4 separate regions of the Homo sapiens genome follow, and regions 1, 3 and 4 are each reported to be linked to region 2. The links are microRNA targets in miRTarBase. Many come from high-throughput screens and were not tested one by one. Region 2 holds a microRNA gene; each other region holds the end of a gene's coding sequence.

Region 1 (7,150 bases), not on the chromosome of region 2:
GTGGGGCGGAGGCGTGGGCCCCCTACCCTCTGCCCCCTGCCCCCTCGGAAGCGCAGCCCTCTTCCAGGGGTTGGGACGAGCTAGCGCGGGGACCCGGGGCACCGGCAAGGACCCACCCGCTACTGGGACCTGGCGCCGGCGGCGCCTCTCGCGGGGTGGCACCGCCCACTTCCGCCTTCCGCGGGCGCGCGCTGCGCAGTCTTCGTCACAGCGCGGAGGCCTTTTGTCCTCCCGCCCTCCCCGTAGTGGCCGTAACCCGAGTGACATGTTTCCTTGGGGGCGTGGAGGGGCGGGGTCGGGGCCGGAGTGGGCCGTCAGCACTTAAAGGGCCCGCGGCTCGGGCGTAGGAGGCGGTGCCTCTGCAGCAAGCGTGGGGCGCGGGAACCCGAGCAGGTTCGGGAGACGGAATGAAGGGCCGGGTGGGCTCGCGAGGGGCCGGGGAGTCCGCGGGGAGCGAGGGAGTTTCCGAGGGGCGGGTCGTGTTCCTGGCAGCGTCCCTCCAGGGCAGGCCCGCCCCCTTTGTCCCAGTTCCCCGCTGCCCGGGCTGGGGCGGCCGGGGTTCATTCATTGCCGGCCTGAGGACTCCTAGCTCGGCCCCGCTCCGCGCTACAGCCCAAAGCCCAGCCTGAGACCCAGCCGCCCTCGTATGCCCACGGCCTAGCTCCCCTTCCCTCCAACAGACAGACTGGGAAAACCGAGTGGGCGACGGCTGAGCAAGGTCACTCCGCTGTCGGGGGCGCAGCCGGCCTCAGACCAGCTTTCGTGCTTCCCAGGGCCTCTCTGCGACCACTTTCGGGGTCCGCGCCAGGCGCGGGGCGGGGGCGGGGGCGGCTTCGGCGCGGCGGGCAGAGTCCAGCGGGCAGCGGTGGGGGAAGGGCGAGCCGCCTGGGGAGAGGGCCGGGCTGCGAGCCTGGCGATCCAGATTCCAGCCCGCTGTCGCCAGCTGTGGGACCGAAGGGCAACTGTTTCACCTCTCTGGCCCTAGTATCTGTATCTGTAAAGTGCCAGTGATAACACCTGTCTCACCGAGATGCTGGGGGAATTCAGGAAAATCATGCAAAAGTGCCTGGTACGGAGCCTGGCACGCAGAGGGCTCTTGGTCAAGTGGGTTGGAGCTGCGTGAGCCCAGAAGGGGATAGAGGCAGCGTGGAGGAAGGCGGCAGCGGGCCCGGTCGCTGGGAATGAAAGGCCTCAGTGTCTGGGGCTTCCTCCCCGTACTACCCGCAGAGTTTGTTCAGGGTGGAGGTGCGCACCTGGCCAAGTCCACGTCTACACGGCCCACCCAGAGTAGCCTAAGTTGGGCGGGATTCCTAACTCTGAGCCAGGAGTGACCGGGCTGGCCCTGGCATGGGCAGAGGCTGAGCGGGGGTTGGGGTGGGGCCCCCTCCAGGACCAACCACGGTGTGGTTGCCCCTGAGCTGGCCTCAGCCTGCCTGGCAAAGGACCTCACCCTTGAGGCCATGTGATCTATTTCCTGCTTCCTCCCAGCTGACCCTTGAGGGAAAGGGGGTGGGGGCCGCCTAGAGCAGGAGGTATTAGTCACTGCGCCCAGGAGCCAGTTTACACCTAGCGAAGGCGGAGGCATTGGACAAGCCTGGGTCTGAGCAGACAGAACCCCTTCCTGCGACCCTGGAGTCCCAATCGTGCTGCCATTTTCCTTCTGCCCAGGACTCTCCAGTCCTCAGTCACCTTGGACAAAGAAGTGTGGATCCTCAGATTCCATCTTTTCCAACTCCAAGGCAAGTGGAACTAGAAAATAAGGTGCCTGTGTGTCAGGTCTCCCCAGCTCTGCTGTGGCGGGCCCTTAAGATCACCTCACTGAACCCTCACGCTGCCTCATGAAGTTTATACAATTATTAGCTCTGTTTTACAGAGATAGAAACTGAGGCCAAGAGGCTAATTAATTTCCAAAGCCTAAGGCCAGAAAGTGATGGTACCCAGACTTGCCCCAGGGCTGACTTCTGAGCCAGTCTGGTACCTAGGGCACACTGCCGCCTCCTTCCAAAGCGAGCTTAGGGGGCAGGATTCCAGTGGGAAGGAAGCTCTGAGCAGGCAGCCTCAGCCACCTCTGAGACTCTGTATCCTGGGCCAGGTGCCATGGCAGAGAAGGTGCTGGTAACAGGTGGGGCTGGCTACATTGGCAGCCACACGGTGCTGGAGCTGCTGGAGGCTGGCTACTTGCCTGTGGTCATCGATAACTTCCATAATGCCTTCCGTGGTGAGCGGGGCAGTGGGGCTGGGGCTACTTGAGGGGATGGCAGAAGCAAAACCCTGGGTTCCACCTCCACCACCGGGCGGGGAATGTGTGTCTGGCTAGTCCCTGGGAACACAGCACCCCATGTCGTGATGATGTGGCCTACATGTACCCTACCAGGAGGGGGCTCCCTGCCTGAGAGCCTGCGGCGGGTCCAGGAGCTGACAGGCCGCTCTGTGGAGTTTGAGGAGATGGACATTTTGGACCAGGGAGCCCTACAGCGTCTCTTCAAAAAGGTGGGTGCAGGCTGGGCACGGTGGCTCACGCCTGTAATTCCAGCACTTTGGAAGGCCGAGGTGAGGAGATCACTTGAGCCCAGGTGTTCAAGACCAGCCTGCTCAACACAGTGAAACCCCATCTCTACAGAAAAATACAAAAATTAGCTGGGCATGGTAGCCCATACCTGTGGTCCCAGCTACTCGGGAGGCTGGCATGGGAGGATGGCTTGAGCCTGGGAGGTGGAGGTTGCGGTGAGCTGAGATGGCACCACTGTACTCCAGCCTGGACAACAGAGCGAGACTGTCAAAAAAAAAAAAAAAGGTGAGTGCAGGCAGGCAGGCTGAGGGCATTGCCAAGGACTAAAACCAGTAGAGCAACCTCTGGCCATGTCACCCCTGCAGTACAGCTTTATGGCGGTCATCCACTTTGCGGGGCTCAAGGCCGTGGGCGAGTCGGTGCAGAAGCCTCTGGATTATTACAGAGTTAACCTGACCGGGACCATCCAGCTTCTGGAGGTGAGAGGCATGGGACAGGGCACAGACACTAGGAGGGTGTCCAGCTGGACCCCAGCCTGGCAGGCAGTGCCAAACACAGAGCCCAAGCTGTATCATCCTGGACTCATGTCTTTACCTCCCAGTCTCAGTTTCCCCATCTGTAAATGAGAGTGCTCATCACCTCAGCCCCATTCTCCTGTGGAGGAGTAACAGGGTGGGAGTAATGTGTGAGGCAGAGGTCACTGATGCCATCTCTCCACGGCCAGATCATGAAGGCCCACGGGGTGAAGAACCTGGTGTTCAGCAGCTCAGCCACTGTGTACGGGAACCCCCAGTACCTGCCCCTTGATGAGGCCCACCCCACGGGTGGTTGTACCAACCCTTACGGCAAGTCCAAGTTCTTCATCGAGGAAATGATCCGGGACCTGTGCCAGGCAGACAAGGTGAGGGCCCCCTTGACAGTGCCCTGGCTCCACTGATCGATGGACTCCTCAGGGCCCACCCTGAGCCCAGGGGTGGGATTCCGAACACCCCCACTAAGGAGGAAGCTAAGGCTCAGGCAGTTGCAGTGGAGGGCCCCATCCCCTGCTTGTTTCTAAAGATAATAAATAGACAACTGGCCGGGCGCAGTGGCTCATACCTGTAATCTCAGCACTTTGGGAGGCCCAGGTGGGCAGATCACCTGAGGTCAGGAGTTCAAGACCAGCCTGGACAACATGGTAAAACCCCCATCTCTACTAAAAATACAAACATTAGCCGGCCATGGTGGTGTGTGCCTGTGGTCCCAGCTATTCGGGAGGCTGAGGCACAAGAATTGCTTGAACCTGGAAGGCAGAGGTTGAAGTGAGCCAAATCAGGCCACTACACTCCAGCCTGGGCCATAGTGAGACTCCATCTCAAAAAAACAGAATAGGCATGAGGAGGGCTCTGGGTTCAGCTGGGACACGCTGCCTGTGCCTCTGGCCTCACCACCTGACCCACATCCCACAGACTTGGAACGCAGTGCTGCTGCGCTATTTCAACCCCACAGGTGCCCATGCCTCTGGCTGCATTGGTGAGGATCCCCAGGGCATACCCAACAACCTCATGCCTTATGTCTCCCAGGTAAGGCAAAAGGGAAGGGACAGAGGAGTGGCCCTGGGGTTAAAGCTGGTGCCTGGGATCTGGGACGAACTGACCTGATCTCCACCTCCAGGTGGCGATCGGGCGACGGGAGGCCCTGAATGTCTTTGGCAATGACTATGACACAGAGGATGGCACAGGTGAGCCTAGGACCAGGGGGACCTAGGAGTGGGAGCCAGGAAGGAGAGTCAGGGGGAACAGACTCCCCATCCAACACACTCCCTTCTCTGCAGGTGTCCGGGATTACATCCATGTCGTGGATCTGGCCAAGGGCCACATTGCAGCCTTAAGGAAGCTGAAAGAACAGTGTGGCTGCCGGGTAGGAAGAGAAGGGAGAAGTGAGGGAGGGGAGGGACCAGATCCAGGCAGAGCGGCCCAGAGGCGTGGTCAGTCCAGCCCGCTCCATAAACCCTGTTCTCCGTGGGCCAGATCTACAACCTGGGCACGGGCACAGGCTATTCAGTGCTGCAGATGGTCCAGGCTATGGAGAAGGCCTCTGGGAAGAAGGTAGGCCCCCCCGCCCCACCCACCTCACCCACCTCACCCCACCCAGCTCTCAGCAACAGAGCAGCTTTGGCCCTTCCCACTCACCTCTCTGGAGGGTACCTGGCACTGCCCAGTCTCCTCAGCCTGCCTAGCACCCGGTGCCTGCGGGCCAGCCGCTGCTCTGCACTTCTGCTTCTTAAAGACCTGGCCAGCAGCTGGGCCAGGGCCGGCTCAGCTAAGCTCCAACTACCTCCTGTCTTGCAGATCCCGTACAAGGTGGTGGCACGGCGGGAAGGTGATGTGGCAGCCTGTTACGCCAACCCCAGCCTGGCCCAAGAGGAGCTGGGGTGGACAGCAGCCTTAGGGCTGGACAGGATGTGTGAGTGCTGGCCTGACCCCTGCAGTTAGGGGCCAGGGAGGGGCTAAATCAGATCTGGGCATGCCCACCCAGGGCGGGCTGTGGGGTGGGGGAGGCTCTGCATTCCACCGTGGGCCCTGAGCACACACCTCGCCGTGTTGCAGGTGAGGATCTCTGGCGCTGGCAGAAGCAGAATCCTTCAGGCTTTGGCACGCAAGCCTGAGGACCCTCCCCTACCAAGGACCAGGAAAAGCAGCAGCTGCCTGCTCTCCAGCCTCTGGCAGGAACTCAGGGCCCTGGAGCTGCTGGGGCCAAGCCAAGGCCTCCCCTACCTCAAACCCCAGCTGGGCCCGCTTAGCCCACCAGGCATGAGGCCAAGGGCTCCACTGACCAGGAGGCCGAGGTCTCTAACTCTTATCTTCCACAGGGTCCAAGAGTTCATCAGGACCCCCAAGAGTGAGTGAGGGGGCAAGGCTCTGGCACAAAACCTCCTCCTCCCAGGCACTCATTTATATTGCTCTGAAAGAGCTTTCCAAAGTATTTAAAAATAAAAACAAGTTTTCTTACACTGGGGCAGGTTCTCACAGATGGTCACTATCCACCCCTGGAATAGAATCAGCCAGGCCTGAGCGTTGAGGAAGCAATTTCTTTAATTTTATCGGAATCCAGGACACAACAAGAAAAACACCCAAAAACCACATGGAGACAGAAGACGAGACACAACTCCTCCCCCACTGCCTCCCTGCTCTAGAGTGGGGACAAAGTGGGGGTGAGACAGCTGGGGGGAGACCTGAACCTCAGTCCAGCCCTACAGGCTCCAGGCCTGCAGGGAAGGAGGGTAACGGGGAGGCAGGGCCCAGCCCCCCAGTGTGGGGAAACAGCTGAGGGAAGGCCCCCCTCAAAAGGCTCCACCTCCTCACCAGCACTCCTGCCCAGGGACAGGGAGCCCACAGCAGCAAGGGGACCCCGGGGCCATGGCCACATTCATGACTGAGAAGCAGCTGAGTGGAGGCAGGAGACACGATTATCTGGGCAGAATCAGTTGGGGCAGGGGCCTGGGGGGGCCCCATGGGCCAAACCCTGAGGTCACAGGAGGGGGCCCAAAGCGGGGCTAGTGAGTGAGGTCCTGAGTGAGTGGGTCAGCGGCTGGGCCCCTTTCTCCAGCTGCCTGTAGCCCCTCCAATACTGCTGCCAGGGGGGCCCGCCTCCAGGGAAATGGATAAGAAAGCAGCCTGCCCCTGCTGCAGACAGAGCCAGGTGGCTAAGGCCAGGAAGGAAGGCCCGGCCAGGCCTTGCCACCTGCCCCCAGAGGCCTGTGGGAAAAGGACAGGTCAGGAAGGGTGGGGACAGGGGCTCGACCGGCTCAGATCCAAGATGGTGCCACGCTTGCTTGCTGAGTCCCCCATGAGCTGGGGTACTGCACTGGGGCCAGCGACTAGTTAGACAGGAGGCAGCAGCTTCTCAAGAAATTCCTTCACAGCTGCCATCTCCTGAGGGGATTAAGAGGGGATCACGAGAGGCACCTGGCTGGAGGCAGAGAAGTGGGAGTGGGAAATGGTCCCCCCACTGACCTGAGGACAGGAGCTGTGCATGACACCCGGGTATGTCTTGAACTGGACCCTGGCAGGTGTGACAACAGACCGGAGCTTCTCAGCCGTCAGGGCCCCAAACCGTACGGGCACCATGGGGTCCAGCTCCCCATGGCACTGGAGTATGGCCAGGTCCTTGGCACTGCCATTAGCTGCCTGGAGGCCGGACAGGACTCAGGGCAAAGCTAGTGCTGCAGCAGTCCCCAAGCCACGAGGATGCAGACACAAAGGGCGGGGGGGTCAGTGGGGACATTCACCTGGGGGAAGGCCCGGTGCAGAGGCAGCCAGCAGCTCAACGCCACGATGCCAGCCAGAGGGTGGGGGCAGGTGAGGGCCGTGTAGAGGGACAGGGCCCCGCCCTGGAGGGAGGAGAGAGAGGGGTCATGAGGGCACAGCTCACTCACCGGCCACCCCTACCCCCTACCCCCCCACCCCTCTCCCCTCACCTGTGAAAAGCCTCCCAGGACGATTCGATTGGCAGGGATCCCGTTCTTCATTTCATGCTCAATCAAGGCCTTGACTGGGGGAGGGGGCATGAGTGGGTAGAGGGAAGCTGCCAAGGGGCCCAATAAGGGAGCTAGGCTGAGGAACCGCCCAGCGCTTTCCTGGGGGGCAGGGGAAGGAGGAT
Region 2 (7,121 bases):
CACAACTGTTTTTCCTGCAGATGTGTGAGCTGCGACAAAGACAGAGTCATGCCGTTCCAAGTGCAGGATGGCCTGTTTCTGAAACACATCTGGCTCAAATGCCCACTATGGGAGAGAGAAATAGACAGGAGCTGAAGAAAGGAGCGGGGCCTTGCTGCCTCCTGCTCATGGAGCACGCAGGGCGGGCGGATGAAGGCCGGAGCCAGCCGAGGCTGGGACTGAGTACCAAGACTGGCCTGGGATGGATCTGACCTCTGGCCAATAGAGGAGACAAGGGGTCGGCTGGGAGTGTGACCCAGAAAGAGGTAGAGGAGCGTGTGAAGATGGGGCCAAAGTACCTGGAAGGCTGGCTGGGGAATGAGGCGATAGAAATCACCAACAGGGGAGGTGGCGTCCACAGGGATGGCCCACTGCTCCTGAGATGGAGGCTCTGGGGCCTCTGGGGTGGATACAGCTGTGGACGCTTCCTGGAAGAGTCAGGGGTAGCAGTGATAAAGATACAACCAGAGGGCTCTCAATTAGCACTCCTCCCAAAAGATGTCCCTTTCTTCCCCTCAGACCCATCCTAGCCAGCCCACATCCTGGTGGCAAGGCTCTTTCTTGCCTCCACTACACAGAACCACCAACCTTCAACACTAGGTCTTCCAAGCTGCTTGCTCGGGCCAGGGGAGCACTGCAGGGAGAGGCTGAAACAGTGTCCCCTCTGGGACCTCCTGGCTGTCCCACTGCCTCATTCTCATCCTCGTCACCCCCACCCAAATCCAGAGGCTCCAACATACAGCTAAGGCTTAGTAGTCCAGGAGCTGGAGTTGGACAATCTGAGGAGCAAGCCAACAAGGTCAACCTTGTCATGTCCATCTCTGTTCCTTAGGAGAAGGACATGACTTCTCCTACACCCCACTCAAAAACTAAAACTAACCTTTTGGTGCAAAGTCCATGCCTTTCTTGAAACCAGGTGGAATAGTAAGAAGATCTGTAGGATAGGGACATGAAATCAGGTCACTGCACACTGGTGAACAAATTGTGTACATTATATAAACCTAAAAGATACCATTTACAGGACAGATGCTGTAGATAGGGATGTTTGCTATGACACTTTCCCAACAGATGACAGTAAAGGTTGTTGTAGAAATTTCCCAGCAGATGACAGTAAAGGTTGTTATGGACAGAATATCTTTTTCTAATTTTCTCAAAAACATGGGAGGGCTAGCAGTAGCCCAGTGATAGCCTGGGCTCTTCCTCCTCAAGGCTCAGACTCAGAGCCCCACCTTACCTTTCTCAAAGTCTATCTCCTCCTCAGCCTCCTCCCGTGTGTTCAGATCTGTTATGGTGGGTTCATCCATCCCCCCTGGGAAGAGACAGGACAGACAGGGATTCATGGGATGAGGGTAATACGAGATAGGTGGGGAACCCTTCCCTGGAGATTAAAGACACCCTCTTCTACCATCCCATCTCCACAAGAGTCACCTGGCCAGAAGGGATACTGAGTTGGATTTCCCCATAAGGACTGGGAGGCTGGCCCTGGAGGCCGGCGAAGAGACAAGGAGGTTGTAGCCGAGAGATTTGTGTTCTCCAGCAAGACCTAAGGCAAGAGATCAGAGCCCCAATGAGGCTGAGCTTGTCTCTGACCACCTCCCCTTCTCCCCAACTGTTTCTCATGACCCCTGACCTCCTACCTCTTTGTAACCCAGTATCTGGCCTGTGGTTGGGTGTCTTTGGGCCTGTAGGTCGGATGGGACTGGGGCTCCCAGGACAGCCAAAAGAGACCAGGGATCCGTCTTCCTCTGCCATTTTCTGGAGAGAAAAATAGTAACTTTTGGGTCTTCTTTCTTCCTCTGTCCCAGCTTCCTTCAGGAACCCATCACCCTAGTCTAAGCCCCTCCAGACTCCTCACCGGGCTGAGTGCTCCACACCATGCAGAGGCAGCCAGGCTGGGGATGACAGAAACAACTGTTCTGCTTCTTGCTGCAGATCTGGGGCACAAGGAGGGAGGCCATGGGGAAGCTGAAACAAGGGCAAGATGAGAGGCATTAGGTAAGGAAAGAGGATAAAATGCAGACAAAAGAGATGATGGGACTTGTGTTCAGATCAGAAATGGCAGATGTGTCAAACAGACTAGGACAATCAGGCTTGGCCAAAAACTACCTGCTACTGAATTACCTGGGGCAGATTTTGGATTTCAGAAACATGGAGGCTGGACCTAGGAATGTGCATTTTTAAAAAGCTCCCTGGCTAATCATGAAGCACACTGAAATTGGAGACTCACTGATTTTAGAAAAAGGGGTCCCAGACCTAAGGATGAAAGGTTGGAGGCTCAAAGCCTATCATCTCAGTCACCAAGTGCCCTGGTGCTTGGATACAGAAGGGAGCTCCACGGAGAAATGCCACATTTGAAAGAGCAGCTCTCAAAGCAAAAATATCCCCAGCCCTTTCTGCTCTGTCCTCACATGTACTGCAGGTACACTGGGCTGTAATCTGTCCAGCACCCCTTCAGGCTGGGATGGACAGGAGTACAGGCACAGATGAACAAGGTTAAGCTAGATCCTACTGTGAGGAGGGTGAAGGAGGTTTGGACTCAATGCGGGTCAAAGGTTAGGGTCAAAAGTCACTCACGCTACTCTCTGGAGCTCCAGGCAAGTTCAGCAGCTCCCAGTGCCCCGTGCATCCGAGCTCCACGGCCCGAAGGGGTAGGTCCAGGGGATCTGGAGGGGGTAGCACTACGGGGAAAGGTCAAAAGTCAGGGGTCAAAGTTCATTCCATATCGGCTACTCCGTTCCATTTCCCTCCCCTCCCCCTCACCAAGTCGCTCTGTCTCCATCATCCTGGAGCCACAGCAGCTGCCTGGCAGCCCGGAAGTGCGGCAAGTAGTCGCTGCGAAGTAAGCCCCGCCCCGGAACGGGCGGAAGTAGAGGCAACTTCCGGTACAGCCCCGCCGAGAGCGTGAACTATCGCTGCGGAGGGGCAGACCTGGACCGGTGGAAGGCCGGGCGGAAGTGCGCGCCTGGGGCCGCCTTGGTTACCGCGTTTTCCGCTCCTCGCTACGTCATCGTTGTGAGCCCGCTATCAGCGGCCAGCGCGGGCGCGGCCGGAGACCGTGGGGCCCCCGGTTGCCGCCCCCTCGGGTAAGGCCCTCTGCTTCTCACTCTTCGGCCCTTTTTCTCATAGCCGTTTCTCTGTTCTTCCTCTTTGCGTTGCTCTGCGGGCGCTACGCTGGCTCCACCGCCTTCTCTGCCGTTCAAACCCCGCGGTTGTCCTTACCCTAGCGAGGGTAGGGGGGTCGGGTGCCATCGTCTTTCCGACGGAGTGGATATTTGTCCCTCCTTGAACCACATGGTACCTAAAGGTGCTGGTGTCTGTGATCCCTGGAGACAGGAGGGAATGCTGGATGATCCCGACCAGCGGGAGCTTGGACAGCAGCCTGGTTTAAGCAAGGGGTAGGGAAAGCCAAAGACAAGAGTAGGCAGACCTGAAGGGGTGGGGTTGGGTACAGTGTGGACGGCGTGTGAACCCCGGGTGGTAACAGTGGAGAAAGATGTCTTGGGCCCTGCCCCTGAACTAGGAGCCACCATGTTGGTGATACCCCCCGGACTGAGCGAGGAAGAGGAGGCTCTGCAGAAGAAATTCAACAAGCTCAAGAAAAAGGTGAGGGACTGTGTGTGGACATGGCCTAACCTTTCACAGACTCTGCACTCTGAGAAGATATGGGGTGAGTGTGAGCGAATGGGGAAGTTTTTCTGGCCCATACCTAGAGACATATCACCTCACAGTGTAGCTTCGAGAGGTGGGCTTTCCCAAGCCTTGGTGTGGACCTTCTGTCTTTTCTATGCAATTTGCCATGGATTGTCTTCCTTTCCCATGGCTTTTAGTACCGCTTAAGAGCTGATGATCCCCAAGTTTGTTTTTTCCAGTTCTATCCAGTGTTATACTGAAAAACTTCAGATACTCAGTGTTGAAGCTATCATCTTTCTATTCTTGATCTTCCAAATAAGATTGACTACACCAATTCTGCCACATGTTTGGACTCAAAACTCTGACTTCCCCACTATTTGCATAGTCAAACCTTTGCCAAGTCTTATTGTTTCTTCTTTTGAAGTAATTTTTCCTGTTTATTCTTCACTGTGCATTCCCCCGAGCAGGGCTTTATTGACATTCATGTGGGCCATTGTAATGGTCTCTCAACAAATTTCTCAGTCTTTTTTTTTGAACAGACTTCTTCACTCCTGTTCAAATGATCCATTGAAAACACAAAATTCTGCTCCCTCTGTTTCTCAAAAACCATAAATGGCTTCACATTGTCTATAAAAAAGCCTCAAAACCTTAGTTTGGCAGCCTTGTCTAGTAAAGTAGAACTATTCACTACTTCCAAAAGATGCATTCCCAAAGCCTTCTTATCTCTGCATCTTTGCCACCCTGTTTTCTTTTTCTAAAATACCCTTCTCCTCTCTGTGTTGTGCAGAGATACGGGAGAGGGCCTAGTTTAATAGCCATTAAACATCAGAAAATCTTACTAGCTTTCAGCTATGAATAATCTGCACCTCTTATAATTGTATTGCTAACTCAATGTATTTTATTTCTCAGACTGTAAGCTTCTTGAGGGTAGGAACAATGCATTAGCCTCCTGGATATCCCTGTTACGAAGTCATGGCTGGGCCTCATTCAATATGCAGGAAATAGATGGATGAAGCTTCCAGGAAAGGCACATAAACTTATACTTACTTGCAGCTTATATCCTAGGATTCTAGTCCATGATTGAGTTATTTGTCTTCAACTTCAAAAATGTAACACTCTGGAAAACCTCTGGGTTCCGTGGTTTGGTTAGATTAGGAATTTCCAGCATCATACATGATCTAGGGGACCAGAGGCAAGAGGCAGAGCACATCAGTGTACCACTCTGAGGGCATCAAGAAAGACGGTCCCTGGAGTGATGTGCCCAGGGGCCTTAGGAGAGGAACCGGCTAGGGGCTGGCCCTCACTTACCTCTCTCTTCTCACCCTTGTTCCCAGAAAAAGGCATTGCTGGCTCTGAAGAAGCAAAGTAGCAGCAGCACAACCAGCCAAGGTGGTGTCAAACGCTGTGAGTGACAGGGGAAATGGGGATGGACTGGAAGTGGGCAGCATGGAGCTGACCTTCATCATGGCTTGGCCAACATAATGCCTCTTCCCCTTGTCTCTCCAGCACTATCAGAGCAGCCTGTCATGGACACAGCCACAGCAACAGAGCAGGCAAAGCAGCTGGTGAAGTCAGGAGCCATCAGTGCCATCAAGGCTGAGACCAAGAACTCAGGCTTCAAGCGTTCTCGAACCCTTGAGGGGAAGTTAAAGGTGAGCACAAGCAGAAAGATTGTTTAAAGGGCATCCCTCCAAGTTGGAATGTAGATGGGTTTGGGGAAAAATATGCATACTCAAGCACTGGCAAATTGCTGTACCATTCTGAGTTTCACCTCTCATGTATAAAATGAAAAAACTAGACGACTCCTGAATTCTCCATTTTACAAATTCTGTGGTTCTAATCCACCTTGGATTGGAGCTCTTGGAATATGTTGCCCTAAGGGATGGAAAGGGCTGAAAATGTTATCAGGTTCAAGAGAGGTTCAAATAAACTGAATACATAATATATCGAGTCACTTATAAAAAATACCAGCTGGGCGTGGTGGCTCATGCCTGTAATCCCAGCACTTTGGGAGGCTGAGGTGGGCAGATCACTTGAGATTAGGAGTTTAAGACCAACCTGGCCAACATGGTAAAACCCCGTCTCTACTAAAAATACAAAAATCAGCAGGGTGTGAGGCCGGGCGCGGTGGCTCACACCTGTAATCCCAGCACTTTGGGAGGCCGAGGCAGGCGGATCACGAGGTCAGGAGATCGAGACCATCCTGGCTAACAAGGTGAAACCCCATCTCTACTAAAAATACAAAAATTAGCCGGGCGTGGTGGCGGGCGCCTGTAGTCCCAGCTACTTGGGAGGCTGAGGCAGGAGAATTGCTTGAACCCAGGAGGCGGAGCTTGCAGTGAGTCGAGATTGTGCCACTGCACTCCAGCCTGGGTGACAGCGAGACTCCGTCTCAAAAAAAAAAAAAATTAGCAGAATGTGGTGGTGCACACTTATAGTCCCAGTTACTGAGGAGGCTGAGGCCAGAGAATCACTTGAACCCAGGAGGCAGAGGTTGCAGTGAGTGGAGATCACACCACTGCACTCCAGCCTGGACGACAGAGCAAGATTCTGTCTCAAAAACAAAACAAAACAAGCCACAATGGCAGGTGCGGCAATGGCTCATTCCTGGTTAATTTCAGCACTTTAGGAGGCCGAGGTAGGAGGATTGCTTGAGCCCAGGAGTTTGAGACCAGCCCTGGCAACATAGTGAAACCCTATCTCTACAAAAAAAAAAAAAAATACAGAAATTAGCCAAGCATGGTAGAGCACATCTCTAGTCCCAGCTACTAGGGAGGCTGAGGTAGGAGGATTGCTTGAGCATGGGAGGTCAAGGCTGCAGCAAGCTACGATTGCTCTATTGCACTCCAGCCTGGACAACAGAGCAGGACCGTGTCTCAAAAAAAAAAAAAAAAAATAAGTAAAACCACGTCAAATAAGAAATGTATGTAGAATTAAAAGGGAAGAAAAGATCAGAGGAAACCTAGAAGAGGGTGAGGGAAGAGGAACACCTCTGGTCCATGGTTGGGCAACCTCCTGCTCCACACTGAGGTAGGTCTCTCACCACTCCAGGACCCCGAGAAGGGACCAGTCCCCACTTTCCAGCCGTTCCAGAGGAGCATATCTGCTGATGATGACCTGCAAGAGGTAAAGGCTCCTAATTTCTGTCCCTGAGGGGTTGGGGATGGAGGAATATGAGAGACAAATATATTTTGGACCACATGTCAGCAACTGGAAATCATCTTAACTGTTCTTGGTCTCTTTTACAGTCATCCAGACGTCCCCAGAGGAAATCTCTGTATGAGAGGTTAGAGAGTAGAGATAAGGCTGGGCCCATTTGGTGGAGTTGATTGCCTGAGTCCTTGGGAGGTTTGGGCTGTAGGAGCTGGGCTATAGAGGGAATATTGAGTCTCCACAGGGTCTGAGGGGAGAAGGTAAAACCCCCCTTTGATCTTCAGTCTGCATCTCCCCAG
Region 3 (7,000 bases), not on the chromosome of region 2:
CACACTTAACTGGTATGACTTAAACCCACATATTTTTCTCTAAAATGGGGATAAAACTTAGCTCACACGGTAATATAAAGGTCAAATAAACTTCTATGAAAACACTATGTTATTACAAAGGAAGTTTATGTATTCTTTGGGCATAATTTGGCCACAAGGAATTTCTGTTCCATTGCTTCTATGTTGGCCACATCCCCAAGCACCTCAGGATAGAAAGATGTGCGCTCGGCTTGCACTAACTGGCCTTTCTCCTTCTGTTCAGTTTAACCTGCTGTTTGGATGCAGCATCTCTGACTACCGGACATTTTTCAGCTCAGCAGTGACTGTTGTTGGTCTCCTGATGGGAATTTCTCACCAAGAGGAGGTAAAAATAATAATTTGTTTCCTCACAGAATTCAATATATTGAACAAGGAAAATTGGGGGGGTCCTTATGAAAACAGCCCCCTACTGTACACTGCACACTGGAAAAGGGGGAAAATTTCAGTCCTTTGCTCTACTGCTTTATGGTACTGCCTATGCATACAGCATTTACATGGCTGTTGCTTTCAGAAACCTGCCCTTTCCTAAGCACTCAGTCCCTCCTTCCTCACTTCTTGTGTCCTTAATCTTATTGGCAAAGGACACTGAGCCGAAGCTTGTGCTCTTGTGCTTGGCCAGATTAACAAGATTCTCTGCTTCTCAATGGCCCCTTGAAAGTGCATTAACAGGGTAGGGTAAGTTGGTTCAAGCCATGAGAGGCCAAGAAGGGGAGGACTGCTTGAGGCCAAGAATTTGAGACCAGCCTGGGCAACATAGAGACTTTGTCTCTACTAAAAATAAAAAATAAAAATTAGCCAGGTGTGGTGGCATGCACCTGTAGTCCTAGCCACTCAGGAGGCTGGAGGCTGAGGAGAGAGAATCCTGTGAGCCCAGGAGTTGGAAGCTGCAATAAGCCATGATCATGCCACTACACTCCAGACCCTATGTCTATTTAAATTAAAAAAAAAAAAAAAAAAAAAAAAAGGCCAGGTGCGGTGGCTCATGCCTATAATCCTAATACTTTGGGAAGCCGAAGCCAGCGGATCACTTTTGAGGTCAGGAGTTCAAGACCAGCCTGGCCAACATGGTGAAACCCCATCTCTAATAAAAACACAAAAATTAGCCTAGCCAGGCGTGGTGGTGCACACCTGTAATCCCAGCTCCTCAGGAGGTTGATGCAGGAGAATTGCCTTAACCTGGCAGGCGGAGGTTGCAGTGAGCTGAGATTGTGCCACTGCACTCCAGCCTGGGCAAGACAGTGAAACTGTCTCAAAAAAAAAAGTGACATAATGGAAGTGACAAAGAATTAGGAAGGTACAGTTCTAAGAGAAACTGCGTTATTTCTGTTGAGTTAATAACTACTCACTTCAGAGAGCCTATTATTTCCTCCCAGGAACTACCAACAGAAATCCCTGCCTTCCTCCTCAACATATAAAGTAGGAAACCCAAATGAGGCACTGGGCTCCAAACCCTGGTATGTAAAGGGTAGATATGACCAAGCAAGGAAAAACCTGCCATTTAAGCAGTGAAACTGGCAAGATTTTGATCATGGTTGATCATTCTAATGATCTAGAATTCCAAAATTACTAATTAAAATGGGTAGGTTCAGTTTCTAATGTTGTATCTGCAGGGTCTGCATCCACAGATTCAACCAATCCCAGAATGAAAATATTTGAAAGGTAACAATAAAATATAACACACATTTTAAAATACAGTAGAAGAGTCAGGCATGGTAGCATGTACCTGTAGTTCCTGTTACTTAGGAGGCCAAAGTGAAAAGATTGCTTGAGCTCAGGAGTGAGGATGCAATGAGCTATGATCATCCCACTGCCCTCTGAGCGAGACTGTCTCCCACAAAAAACCACAAACCGGTGTAACAACTATTTTACGTAGCAGTTCCACTATAAAGTACTAGAGGTAATCTAAAGTTTATTTCAAGTATAAGAGAGATGTATATAGGGTTTATGCAAATACTGTGCCATTTTTAAAAAGGGACTTTGAGCCGGGCACAGTAGCTCACGCCTGTAATCCCAGCACTCTAGAAGGCCAAGGTGGGGCTGATCACTTGAGGTCAGGAGTTCAAGACCAGCCTGGCCAACATGGTAAAATCCCGTCTCTACTAAAATACAAAAATTAGCCAGGCATGGTGGTGGGAACCTGTAATCCCAGCCACTCAGGAGACTGACTGAGGAGAATCGCTTGAACCTGGGAGGTGGAGGTTGCAGTGAGCCAAGATCACGCCACTGCACTCCAGCCGGGGTGAGAGCAAGACCATTTCAAAAAAAAAAAAAAAAAAAAAAAGTGGGGGAGAAGACACTTTCTTAACCTTTAGGGAAGCTTGCAATTAAAAAATAAAAATAAGGGACTTAAGCATCCTCAGATTTTGGTACCTGTGGGGGCCCTGGCGCCAATCTCTCTCAGATACTAAGGGACAACTGTAACTGCTGTTTTGGCTGACTAGGCTGTGTTCTGTTGTGGTTCTAGCTCCAATAACTAGGGGATGAGCCTTTGCCACTGCAGCACTTCGTATCCTAAAGCTGTGAAGGAAGTAATCAGAGTAACAAATTTTTGCTGACACCTCCTTTTGGGGATAAAAAAGGAACTTTTCTGCTTTGGATGTAATTGTACATAAAAATACAGTAAACATAAAGTAAAAAACATTAAAAAACAAATAGAGCAAACAAAAAATAAACAGTAAAATTGTACATAAAAATAAACTTATTGGAAATAAGTCTTGTATCACAAACTCAGAGATTGCCCACATTATCTGGTTGACCTGAAATTGTTATAATAATCATTTTTAAGTAGGTAAAACAGTTTGGTGCTTGAAAATATTTTGCCATATAGATTTCCATCAGGGTGGCATTGACTGTAATCAACCCCTCTGTTGGGATATTTTTAAACAGTGCCCTAGTGGCAACAATGAATGGGCCAATACCAAGGGAAAATAAATACCATTTGTTGAAAAAGAACATCTAAATTTTAAACAACAGTTTTTGTTATGGGAACCATTCCAATAAGCCCAGAACTTGATATTTATGTATGCAGAAAAGTAAAGAATGGCAGAACTCAATGCTTGTACCTTTAAAAATGACAATGGAAAAAAAAAAATACTAAAAAGCCAGTTTTCTGTGGCCAACCTGTTAACTTTTATTGGAATGCTCCTGTGTTTAGGGTTGTAGTTTCTTGATATGGCAGAGACAGTGTGCATTCTCATTTCTGGTATGCATTTAATCTTTCAGTGTTTGCTTACCCCCCTCCCACTTTTAGCTTCCATGATTAGATGTATTTTTTGCCAAAACTCATGTGACATTTGAATCATTTCCAATTCCACTGCAACTCACCTGTTTTCTTGTGAAAGCCCTGCAGTCACAATTATCTTAACCTCCTTAAAATGAGTCATTCCTGCTCTTCTGTCCATTTAAAAGTATTTTCCTTCTTATTATCTTTTGACTCTCTCCCTAAGTTTCCTTCGGATAAGCTTTTCTTCTGATAAGATCCCAAACACTAGCATATAGCTTATGTTTGTAAAGTATAAACTAAATTGTCAGTCACTGCAAGTGTTCTTATTGTTTTCCCAGGTTTTCGCTTTAGACCCAGTCCTGGGCACCTTTCTGATCCTCACCAGTGTCATCTTGATGGTACTTGTGGTAATTAATCTTTTCGTTTCGGCCATTCTCATGGCCTTTGGAAAAGAAAGAAAGTCGCTTAAGGTAGGTAACTAAAAGATAAACTAGCATGCTGTTATATCACTGGGAAAGCTCCACTGTAACTGCCCCTAAGATGACGGGCTGACATAATTTATAATGCACAGTATCATATTCCCTTTATTAGTTTCAAAAGCTCTGCCAGCTATCTTCCTAGGAAACCCAATTTATAAGACTACATAATATTCTATAGCCATTGTCCTATAAATAGTTGGCTCGCAACCATTAGTGGAAACACTCCAATGCCTGACTGCAAATTATTAAAGAAATAGTATCTTTACATTTACTAATTTTTTAAAAATCTTTGGTACTTTTTTTACTCCACTATTAGCAGTAATTTCAATTTTCTCACTTTTCTCTTTTTGTCTTCAATACTCAGAAAGAAGCTGCACTAATAGATACACTGCTACAGAAGCTCTCAAATTTGTTAGGAATCAGTTGGCCCCAAAAAACCTCATCTGAGCAAGCAGCCACGACAGCAGTGGGCAGTGACACTGAAGTTTTAGATGAACTACCTTAATCCTGTTATCTCCTACTTGGCTTAGTATTTATTAGCGTATTACTACTTATCTTTGCATGGCATAGCTTTAAAATTATAATATACTTTGTTTTTAATTCTGTAAGTTAGGAATCAAAATCCCCTTGGTCCCAAGTTCTTATGGATCTTGGCACTGTCAAGATAGGATTAACAATGCAAGAATACTACGAGACAAACTAGCTCTGCTGCCAAGCAGCAAGTAACAGAACTCACCACCCATGGCCCAGGATGGCTGCGGGAAATGAAGCAGTCAGAAGTGAGCTCACTGCAACTTACTAAAAATAAACATCCAAGGATGAGGCATGGCAGATGCGGAGCCCTGCCACTGAGGAAGACCAAGGAAATTCACAGATGCTATCTGGGCTATCTAAATACAGAGATCAAAATGAGCTCTGTACTGCTCCAGGAATCCTGAAACTAAGGGCTGGTTTACATGGATCACTTGGTTAAAATATTCTCCACTAAAATCCAGATTTATACTTCATCATCTGACCAAACAGTAGAGAAAGCAGGACACAGGATCTTTAACTTTATTAGCAGCTACTGAGCTACAGAATACAAACCAACTGAAAACATTAAAGAAAGGCTGCCTGAAACAAGTATGTACAGGTATACTACACAGAAGCAAAAGCTGTATCATCCAATCCCAAAGCCACCCCTGTGGGGAAGGATGACCTTAGCTATGGGCCAAAGGAGTAACAGAAGTTATGACATAAGAGTCCCATCCATCCAGGAAAGCAGTGAACAACTACAGCTGCATGGGCACCAAAAATTTTTCTGAGATTAGTTTTAAAGGTTCCATGAATCAAAGTTTTCAAATGAAAACAGGTACCCCTCTTTTCCTGTAGGCTTTCCAGCTCACTACCCAAAAGACTTGAGTACTTCTATTAAGGCAGCTGGAAGCCCACCCTAGGACTTGAATGGCACCTTGTCCTTTCTCTGCCAGTAATGCAATCCAACACAATATGCTACAGGGAAAACAGAATTTCCACGGTGCCGCCCTCTGGTACAAGGGAAACAGCACGCAAAGCAAAAGGCCACAGAGGGCTCCCTGAGAATCCAGTACAACTAAGCGAGGCCTTCAACTGTCAAGACAAACTTTGCAACTGGATCCCGGTGGGACAGTGCCCTGCAGCGAGGAGTACTGTATATGCCAATGAGAGGGCCCAGCTTCCAGGAACCGTTACAATGGCGTCCCGAGTCATTTTCCCTCTCCCACTTGCATTCGAGAGTGAGAAAACACACAAGGTGGCCTTGATTCTCACTCACCACAATCCCCCTGTACAGAGGGGTCTGTTTCTAAGTCTGGAACCTCAACACGAGGCTGGGATGCTTCACAACGTGCTCTCTCCCACTGTCCAGCCATCTTTGGTGGTCTTCCCACAGTGCTTCCCCCATCCTCTCACACTCCTGTGGAGGGACCATGGGACGGGCCAGGAGGAAACCTGGGATCACTCTGACAGGAAACGGACAAGCACAGCTGCCAGGAGCCAGTTGCTCTGGCCTCAGTCTCCAATTGTTAGTCTCAGGATCAACAGAGAACTGGAAAGCAGCAGAATCTGGAGGAGCAGGAAGAGAGCCCAGAGGGAGTGTTGTGCTGAGTGACGGTTAACAGATGAAACAGAATTTCATGGAGATTCTTTGTTACAAGGAGAAATTGCTCAGTCTCAACTCCCAAAACGTGAAAGTTGCCTGGTTTAAGAGACCTATGTTTTCTTTTTCAGCTCTTCAAACCTCCGGGAAAGATCATCAAAGTCAATGTCTTCAGATGCTGAGGTGCTGGCACCAGCAGATGCAGTTGGTAGTGTGTCTGGCACAGATGGCAACTCTGGTAGGACAAAGTTGTCATAGTTATCTGCAGGTCTGGAAGGAAGCTTTGCAGAGGCTTCTGGCTTGGGTCCAGGACCTAATTAGGGCAAGGAGCACAACGTTACAAATACCAGAGAAATGACTCAGATCCCCTTTGGCAGTAAAAATAAAATGATCAAAACACAGGAGAAAACCTTAGTTCACAAACTTTTTTTTTTTTTTTTGAGACAGTCTCCCTCTGTCACCCAGGCTGGAGTGCAGTTGGCGTGATCTCAGCTCACTGCACCTCTGCCTCCTGGGTTCAGGCAATTCTCCTGCCTCAGCCTCCTGAGTAGCTGGGATTACAGGCGCATGCCACCACACCTGGCTAATTTTTGTATTTTTAGTAGAGAGAGGGTTTCACCAGGTTGGCCTTGAACTCTGATCTCAAGTGATCCACACACCTCAGCCTCCCAAAGTGCTGGATTACAGGTGTGAGCCACCGCATCTGGCTAAAAAAAAGTTAATTCTAGAGGCTAATAAACATTTGAATGACAGTTAATATCTACATTTTCTAATTAGGGTTGAATCCTGTTTTACTTTCCTGTGGTGAGAAAAAAGTTTAAGGGAAATCAAAGTGGGATACATGGGGCCACATCCACAGAGCAATCGACTGTTCCTTTTCATAAGGTCTGTTACTTTACCAACTAAGTCCAAGGAGTGATAATAGGATTCTGATAGAACAAACACTGCTTCCTTAAGAACCAACATTCTTTAGGGATTGGGGGCAAAGTTTTTTTAAAGGAATATAATGTCCAAGTTATTTTGTTATAATAGTCTGATCTGTATTTCCAGTCTTCCATCTAGTATTTTATATTAAGATCATGCCCCCACACACATCTACTGTATGTTTCCTTAAGTTCTAGATTCAGGAAAACTAAATTACAA
Region 4 (7,150 bases), not on the chromosome of region 2:
GGGAGGTCCCCCCAACAGGCGACCTGGAGAGCTTCAAGAAGCAGTCGTTTGTGCTGAAGGAGGGTGTGGAGTACCGGATAAAAATCTCTTTCCGGGTAAGCTACAGGCTGCTGTGGCCAGGGAATGGAGGCGGGGCTGGGGCTGGGGTCCGGACCGACCTTCCCTGATCCTCGCTTCGGGTCCTGCAGGTTAACCGAGAGATAGTGTCCGGCATGAAGTACATCCAGCATACGTACAGGAAAGGCGTCAAGAGTGAGTGGGGCCCCGGGCAGGGCAGAGGGGGCCGCTTGGGTGCGTGCTGCCAGGCGGGGAAGCGGGGCCGCTGACCGCCCTCTTCCTTGTGCCGCAGTTGACAAGACTGACTACATGGTAGGCAGCTATGGGCCCCGGGCCGAGGAGTACGAGTTCCTGACCCCCGTGGAGGAGGCACCCAAGGGTATGCTGGCCCGGGGCAGCTACAGCATCAAGTCCCGCTTCACAGACGACGACAAGACCGACCACCTGTCCTGGGAGTGGAATCTCACCATCAAGAAGGACTGGAAGGACTGAGCCCAGCCAGAGGCGGGCAGGGCAGACTGACGGACGGACGACGGACAGGCGGATGTGTCCCCCCCAGCCCCTCCCCTCCCCATACCAAAGTGCTGACAGGCCCTCCGTGCCCCTCCCACCCTGGTCCGCCTCCCTGGCCTGGCTCAACCGAGTGCCTCCGACCCCCCTCCTCAGCCCTCCCCCACCCACAGGCCCAGCCTCCTCGGTCTCCTGTCTCGTTGCTGCTTCTGCCTGTGCTGTGGGGGAGAGAGGCCGCAGCCAGGCCTCTGCTGCCCTTTCTGTGCCCCCCAGGTTCTATCTCCCCGTCACACCCGAGGCCTGGCTTCAGGAGGGAGCGGAGCAGCCATTCTCCAGGCCCCGTGGTTGCCCCTGGACGTGTGCGTCTGCTGCTCCGGGGTGGAGCTGGGGTGTGGGATGCACGGCCTCGTGGGGGCCGGGCCGTCCTCCAGCCCCGCTGCTCCCTGGCCAGCCCCCTTGTCGCTGTCGGTCCCGTCTAACCATGATGCCTTAACATGTGGAGTGTACCGTGGGGCCTCACTAGCCTCTAACTCCCTGTGTCTGCATGAGCATGTGGCCTCCCCGTCCCTTCCCCGGTGGCGAACCCAGTGACCCAGGGACACGTGGGGTGTGCTGCTGCTGCTCCCCAGCCCACCAGTGCCTGGCCAGCCTGCCCCCTTCCCTGGACAGGGCTGTGGAGATGGCTCCGGCGGCTTGGGGAAAGCCAAATTGCCAAAACTCAAGTCACCTCAGTACCATCCAGGAGGCTGGGTATTGTCCTGCCTCTGCCTTTTCTGTCTCAGCGGGCAGTGCCCAGAGCCCACACCCCCCCAAGAGCCCTCGATGGACAGCCTCACTCACCCCACCTGGGCCCAGCCAGGAGCCCCGCCTGGCCATCAGTATTTATTGCCTCCGTCCGTGCCGTCCCTGGGCCACTGGCCTGGCGCCTGTTCCCCCAGGCTCTCAGTGCCACCACCCCCGGCAGGCCTTCCCTGACCCAGCCAGGAACAAACAAGGGACCAAGTGCACACATTGCTGAGAGCCGTCTCCTGTGCCTCCCCCGCCCCATCCCCGGTCTTCGTGTTGTGTCTGCCAGGCTCAGGCAGAGGCGCCTGTCCCTGCTTCTTTTCTGACCGGGAAATAAATGCCCCTGAAGGAGCTGGGGGTGTCTGCTGCTTGGCTTCTCCAGGGTGTGGCAGGGGAGGGCCTGGCTCCTCTACTGCCTCACGGGCTTTAGGAGACAAAGGGGAAGATGGGGACCCTGGTGGGGTGGTGGGAGGGGAAGGGCAGGGCCCCCTTGAAGTGCTGTGGCTGCTGGGCCCCTTGCAACTATCTGGGGAGAAAGGAATGTGACTCCCAGCTACAGTAGCCCTAGGCAGCAACAGTCTAGAACAGTGCAGAAGGCCTTGGCTGGGGTTGCCCCTCCTTGCTAAGGGAATGGGAAGACGGGCCTGGCTTGTGTAGCTCATGCTGCCAGAGGGAGAGCTGCTTGATTCCCTGGCCGGGCTTGGAGGTGTCGAGTTGGCCCAGCTGTGCGCGGGCCCTCCAATGACTGGATCCCAAGGAAACCCAGGGAGGAACAGGCCCAAGCCAGGGTCGGCCTTGTGGCCCCTGGCGCACGTGGATGCAGCTGTGGCTGAGGCAGGAAGTAGGTGCCCAGGCAACGGGGGCCACGGAGGCGCCTAGAGCACCAGCCCTTCACAGCCACAGCCGCAGCCAAGTGCCCTCCAGGATCGGGCAGTGCCAGGAGCCCAACAGCGAAAAGGCTTGGTGTGATGGGATCGGCAGGAGACAGGGCATCCTCACTGCGGTGTGGTGTGAAGGGGCTACTGGGGGAACCACGCAGGGCCTCCTGGGGCAGGTGCGCTCAGCCAGGGGCCCCAACTGCTGCAGCATCCAGGAACCCCAGCTCGTCCGTGTCTGCAGTCTCCAAGAGCCCCCGGGAACTTCAAACCCATGCCCCTCTACCCTGCAGGGGGAAGAGGCAGATGAGTAACCAGGCACCCCTTAGAAGTGTCCATTCAGAAATTCTTTTTCTGGCCTGATGCGAGTTTCAAAATCTGCCTTCTGTGGTATAAGGTGTTGAGGAAAATACTTCACACACACACGCAGCTGGGCTGGGCAGCTGCTACCCCGGGGCCCTCCTACTGGTCATTCTGACACAGGCCATACTGCTCTGGGGTTTATCAGCAGGGTGGGCCCCGCAAGGGGCTTATCTCCAGCTGGGGTGGGCAGGGAGATGCCCTCATGCTTCAGGTCACTAACTACACACCTGTGCCAGGGCAGTGCGTGCGGGCACCACTGCCACCTTGCCCCATCCTTGCTAGGCCTTTGTGGGGGCCGCAGAGGCTGAGCCTAGAGCTGACCGTGTCAGACACCCCAACAGAATGGTGCCTTCCTGCAGAAGCTGGTCCAGACCCAGATCTGGAAGCAGCTATAGAGAAAGCCTGGGTCAGCCCCCAGCCCTTGATTCCGCAGGGAGCAAAGACCCTACCGAGCCTTTCCCAGAACTGCTACTAGCCCCAAGCGAGGTGGTCTCGTGTTGCGTTGCTGCTTCTGCCTGTGCTGTGGGGGAGAGAGGCGGTGGGGTGGTGAAACCACAGGATGGAGGCTAATCCCACTGGACAGACACCAGCACAGCCAGGGAGGATGAGCTCCGAGGCAGCAGCCCCTGCCAGACAGTTTCTCCCACGCTCCCAGTTCACTTCTTACATGCTCCAGGGGAGTCCCCAAGCCCAGTGCCAGGGTGTTGTCAGCAGTTCGGCTCATCGGGCAAGGGCCTTCTGAGCTTGGGCTGAGCCAAAGGGCTTCACCTTCTTGCTCCTGGATTTTCCCAGCTTTGCTAGACATGTGAACTCAGACCCAGGTGCCAAGCTGTACGGGCATGCTGCCAGCAGCCAGGACTTTGGGCTGGCCCCTCCCCTGGTGCAGGATAACATGAGGTGGCACCTGCACAGTGGGCATGACGTGTCTCTCGGGTCCCAAGTCTAACCTGATCCTCGTGGCCCCACCTGGGACCTGTTTGTATGGCCTGGCGCTCCAGAGAGGCCTCCTCGCCTCCAGCAGCCTGCGCCTGCAGTCTCCTCTCCCAACCTCCACAGGTCCGTGGCTCCCAGCAGTCCCCTAGCATCCACCTCCTCAGCCACCCCCAGGTGGACACTTCTTCCATTCAGGAGAGTGACAAGTCACAGTGCCAGCCAGTGCTAGGTCAGGGTCTGGGATGTGACCAACTAACCATGGGTTACTGTGGTTTCTGAGAACCTTCTCTGTGCCCAACACTGCCCTGCACCATAATGAGCGCCTGCCACACTCCGCAGGGCCCACACTCACCACCGCGCTGCTGCTGGATTTCTCACCTCCACTCCGGGCACAGCAGGCTGCTGCTCAGTGGGAACACAGGAGGGACCTCGGAGCACTGCCCAGGTATCCATGAGCCTGCTGTTGTTACCCCCACCACACCTTCGACCGGACTGAAGGTTGAAAGGGAGCTGTTTTGCTCTGAGAACTCTACTTTTAAGAGTAGTAGCTGGCCAGAAGCAGATCACTTGAGCTCAGCAGTTCAAAACCAGCCTGGGCAACACAGGAGACCCCATCTTTAAAAAAATAAAAATTAGGTGGGCATGGTGGTGCACAACTGTAGTCCCAGCTACTCAGGAGGCTGAAGCAGGAGGATCACTTGAGGCTACAAGGCAGAGGCTGCAGTGGGCCATGACTGCACCACTGTGCTCCAGCCTAGGTGACAGAGTGAGACCCTGTCTCAAAAGAGTAATATTGTACACACAGTACATTTCAAAAACTGCATCAATCAAAACATTTAATCACAAACCAGTTGGCTGGGCATGATGGCTCACGCCTGTAATCCCAGCACTTTGGGAGGCCGAGGCAGGAGGATCACGAGGTCAGGAGTTCGAGACCAGCCTGACAAACATGGTGAAACCCTGCCTCTACTAAAAATACAAAAATCATCCAGGGTTGGTGGTACACGCTTATAATCCCAGCTACTCAGGAGGCCAAGGCAGGAGAATCGCTTGAACCTGGGAGGCAGAGGTTGCAGGAGAATCGCTTGAACCTGGGAGGTGGAGGTTGCAGTGAGCCAAGATCACGCCACCACACTCCAGCCTGGGCAACAGAGGGAGACTCTGTCTCGAAAAAACAAAAAACAAACAAAAACCAACTAAGCAACATTTAATGGATCCCTTCACCAAGCCTGAGACTCCCTAAAGGATGTCTGGAGCACCTGTGATGATCCAAAGAAATACCAGCCACAGGAGGGCTCTGACCCCCAAGGGCACACTCCTCGAAGGGCCTGGGCATGAGGTGAACACAGCCCATCTTCTCACCCTAGGGTTAGAAGGCACAGGAGCAGGCCTCAGGAAAAGGACATCAGCCCTCTGCAGGTGCCCAGCGGAACCAGCCTGCATTCTTGGGGGCAGGACCCATGCCCTGCACATTTCCATCCACTCAACAACCCCCATAGAGGGCGTCTCAGGCCATCGCAGACCAGGCTTCCTCCTCCAGCCTTACCAGAAAGTCCACCTTTGCTGCACCTGTCAGGTTGGTGTAGGAAGCCAGTCCAAGGGCAGAGGCACCTTGAGAGGACCCTATGGGCAGCCATGGCATCTGTCTAAGATACTGTGATTCGGCTGGGCGTGCTGGCTCACATCTGTAACCCCAGTGCTTTGGGAAGCTGAAGAGGGGAGGATCCTTTGAGGTCAGGAGTTCAAGACCAGCCTGAGCAACATAGCAAGATCCTGTCTTTAAAGAAAAAAAATGCTGCCATCTATCTAGATTAGTGCTGGTTGGGCACCTGATTTTCACAGGAGAATGTCAGGTCGGCCACAGCCACCTGGGCTGCTGTTCTGTAGCCCTGCCCTCTGCTACCCTGGCTAGGCCTTCACCCACACTGAGGTGTGTTCCACTGGCCCAGAGCCAGCCTGAGACTCATCCACGGCCACTGGGATCCTTGCCTGGTCTGTGTGCCTTGAGTATTCACCACTTGGTCCCAGTTTTCATTGTCTGTGAACACTTTTCCTTTTTACTTTATGCTCTGGCCTAAGCTGCCGCCAAACCATCACAAGCTAATCAACATTATGGTATGTCAAATCTCTTCACTCTTCCCCCAACAGTGGACAAAACACAAGCTACAATATTTAGGCATCTGAACTCTGACCTCGTATCTAGATGTGGTACAAATATGGGCTGGGGTTTTATGTAAGATACAGGGTCTCTGTCACGCAGACAGAAGTGCAGTGGTATGATCATGGCTCACTGCAGCCTAGACCTCCTGGGCCCAAGCTATTCTCCTGCCTCACCCTCCAAAGTAGCTGAGATTATAGGCATGCAACACCATGCCCAGCTTGTCTCAGGCCCCAAACTGTGGTCTGTACAACAGCTCATGGCAACCACAAAAACGTTGGAAGATAGTGCAGTGACCTGAAGCAATTTCCATCATCCAGAGAGCAGAAGGAACAATGCCTGCAATCAAAACCATTTATGAAGAGATGGTGTTTCCTGAGTGGGCTCCAGGCCAGTGCTCAGGGAGGCACATACTCATATTCCTTCTTGGCCAGAAAAGTCACCCGGAGGAAGCAGACAGTTCTCCCAGCAGGTACAACTTATGCCGCTGACTGACCTTTGCTCCGCTGGCACTGGGGGGAAGGGAACAGGGGACCCAGTCTTGACCACAAGGAGCTCATATTCTAGTGGAGGGAGTTCCCTGTCGGAAGGAGAAGCATGTTCTCAGGAACAACTGATCAACAAACAGAAACTCTCAAAGTACAAAAGCAACTTACTCTACGTTTTACCATTTCAAAAGTCAGGATACTATTGCAGTCAATGTGTATACATTTAACATGGGAGTACCTCCCTTTTGCCTGCCAAGTTTCAACTTTAAAATCAGTGGCGGTGCCGATTCCCAGCGGAGGAAAGTGAGGAGGAATGGAGAGGGCAGGCACCTGGGGAAAAGGAGAGCAGCAGATTCCAGGCAGTGAGGGAGACGGAGGGCTGCCAGTGTCCAACACTAACAAAATGCAGACCATCTATGTAATTTTAAAAGTTTCTAAAAGCCACGTTAAAAGATAGAAGAGGAGGCCTGGTGCGGTGGCTCACGCCTATAATCCCAACGCTTTGGGAGGCCAAGGCGGGTGGATCACCTGACGTCAGGAGTTCGAGACCAGCCTGGCCAACATGGTAAAACCCTGTCTCTACTAAAAATACAAAAATTAGCTGGGCATGGTGGTGCATGCCTGTAATCCCAGCTACTCGGGAGGCTGAGGCAGGAGAATCGCTTGAATCCGGGAGGTGGAGTGAGCCGAGATCGCCCACTGCACTCCAGCTTGGATGACAAAGTGAGATTCTGTCTCAAAAAAATAAAAAATAAAAATTTTAAAAAAAGGACATTTTTTTACTATTTTTTGAGATAGGGTGTCGATCTGTCGCCCAGGCTGGAGTGCAGTGGTGGGATCATGGCTCACCGCAGCCTCAGCCTCCTGGGCTCAAATGATTCTCCCACCTCCACCTCCCAAGTAGCTGGGACCACAGGTGCACACCACCGTGCCTGGCTAATTTTTTTAATTTATTTTTTGTAGAGACGGGAGTCTCACTA

Evidence for each region. The annotated mature microRNA hsa-miR-1236-5p reads UGAGUGACAGGGGAAAUGGGGA and lies in region 2 at 5,075-5,096, shown strand. An mRNA with a match to its seed (bases 2 to 7 or 8) in the 3' UTR can be bound and repressed. Matches are read on the target gene's strand: a 7mer-m8 pairs with bases 2 to 8, a 7mer-A1 pairs with bases 2 to 7 and ends in A, and an 8mer does both.
Region 1: miRTarBase lists LYPLA2 as a target of hsa-miR-1236-5p. Seed matches in the 3' UTR shown: 7mer-A1 at 6,061-6,067 and 7mer-A1 at 6,049-6,055.
Region 3: the mRNA of IST1 is a reported target of hsa-miR-1236-5p. Seed matches in the 3' UTR shown: 8mer at 5,863-5,870.
Region 4: the mRNA of ARHGDIA is a reported target of hsa-miR-1236-5p. Seed matches in the 3' UTR shown: 7mer-A1 at 1,400-1,406.

Annotation. Positions count from the first base shown.
Region 1 is chr1:23,793,955-23,801,104 of GRCh38, reverse strand. It overlaps LYPLA2 (lysophospholipase 2), which reads right to left. Exons shown (of 10, transcript NM_007260.3): 7 at 6,969-7,042; 8 at 6,780-6,881; 9 at 6,505-6,678; 10 at 5,566-6,423. The coding sequence ends at 6,373. GALE (UDP-galactose-4-epimerase) reads left to right here and starts at 351. Exons shown (of 12, transcript NM_001008216.2): 1 at 351-393; 2 at 1,669-1,739; 3 at 2,093-2,218; 4 at 2,375-2,490; 5 at 2,875-2,988; 6 at 3,234-3,410; 7 at 3,958-4,071; 8 at 4,163-4,229; 9 at 4,323-4,408; 10 at 4,519-4,596; 11 at 4,840-4,954; 12 at 5,098-5,506. The coding sequence starts at 2,098. The coding sequence ends at 5,156. RefSeq lists silencers at 1-150, 311-790, 841-940.
Region 2 is chr6:31,954,893-31,962,013 of GRCh38, reverse strand. It overlaps MIR1236 (microRNA 1236), which reads left to right and starts at 5,074; the gene lies at 5,074-5,175. It overlaps NELFE (negative elongation factor complex member E), which reads left to right and starts at 3,043. Exons shown (of 11, transcript NM_002904.6): 1 at 3,043-3,122; 2 at 3,560-3,642; 3 at 5,004-5,073; 4 at 5,176-5,321; 5 at 6,721-6,795; 6 at 6,918-6,955. The coding sequence starts at 3,568. It overlaps SKIC2 (SKI2 subunit of superkiller complex), which reads right to left and starts at 2,839. Exons shown (of 28, transcript NM_006929.5): 1 at 2,800-2,839; 2 at 2,614-2,717; 3 at 1,895-2,004; 4 at 1,677-1,794; 5 at 1,468-1,582; 6 at 1,274-1,348; 7 at 920-973; 8 at 628-818; 9 at 339-467; 10 at 1-105. The coding sequence starts at 2,821. RefSeq lists an enhancer at 1-249.
Region 3 is chr16:71,926,784-71,933,783 of GRCh38, reverse strand. IST1 (IST1 factor associated with ESCRT-III) reads right to left here. Exons shown (of 10, transcript NM_001270975.2): 10 at 2,585-6,170. The coding sequence ends at 5,971. PKD1L3 (polycystin 1 like 3, transient receptor potential channel interacting) reads left to right here. Exons shown (of 30, transcript NM_181536.2): 28 at 263-364; 29 at 3,601-3,732; 30 at 4,106-4,246. The coding sequence ends at 4,246. Among named protein-coding and RNA genes, the nearest start is that of IST1, 35 kb to the right of the region's middle.
Region 4 is chr17:81,862,275-81,869,424 of GRCh38, reverse strand. ARHGDIA (Rho GDP dissociation inhibitor alpha) reads left to right here. Exons shown (of 6, transcript NM_004309.6): 4 at 19-95; 5 at 189-252; 6 at 350-1,704. The coding sequence ends at 549. It overlaps LOC124904086 (a long non-coding RNA gene), which reads right to left. Exons shown (of 2, transcript XR_007065950.1): 2 at 1,669-6,262. Among named protein-coding and RNA genes, the nearest start is that of P4HB, 5.3 kb to the right of the region's middle. RefSeq lists silencers at 1-20, 621-670, 1,381-1,470, 1,821-1,880, 4,898-5,192 and enhancers at 311-460, 175-803, 804-1,433, 1,434-2,062, 2,693-3,321 and 1 more.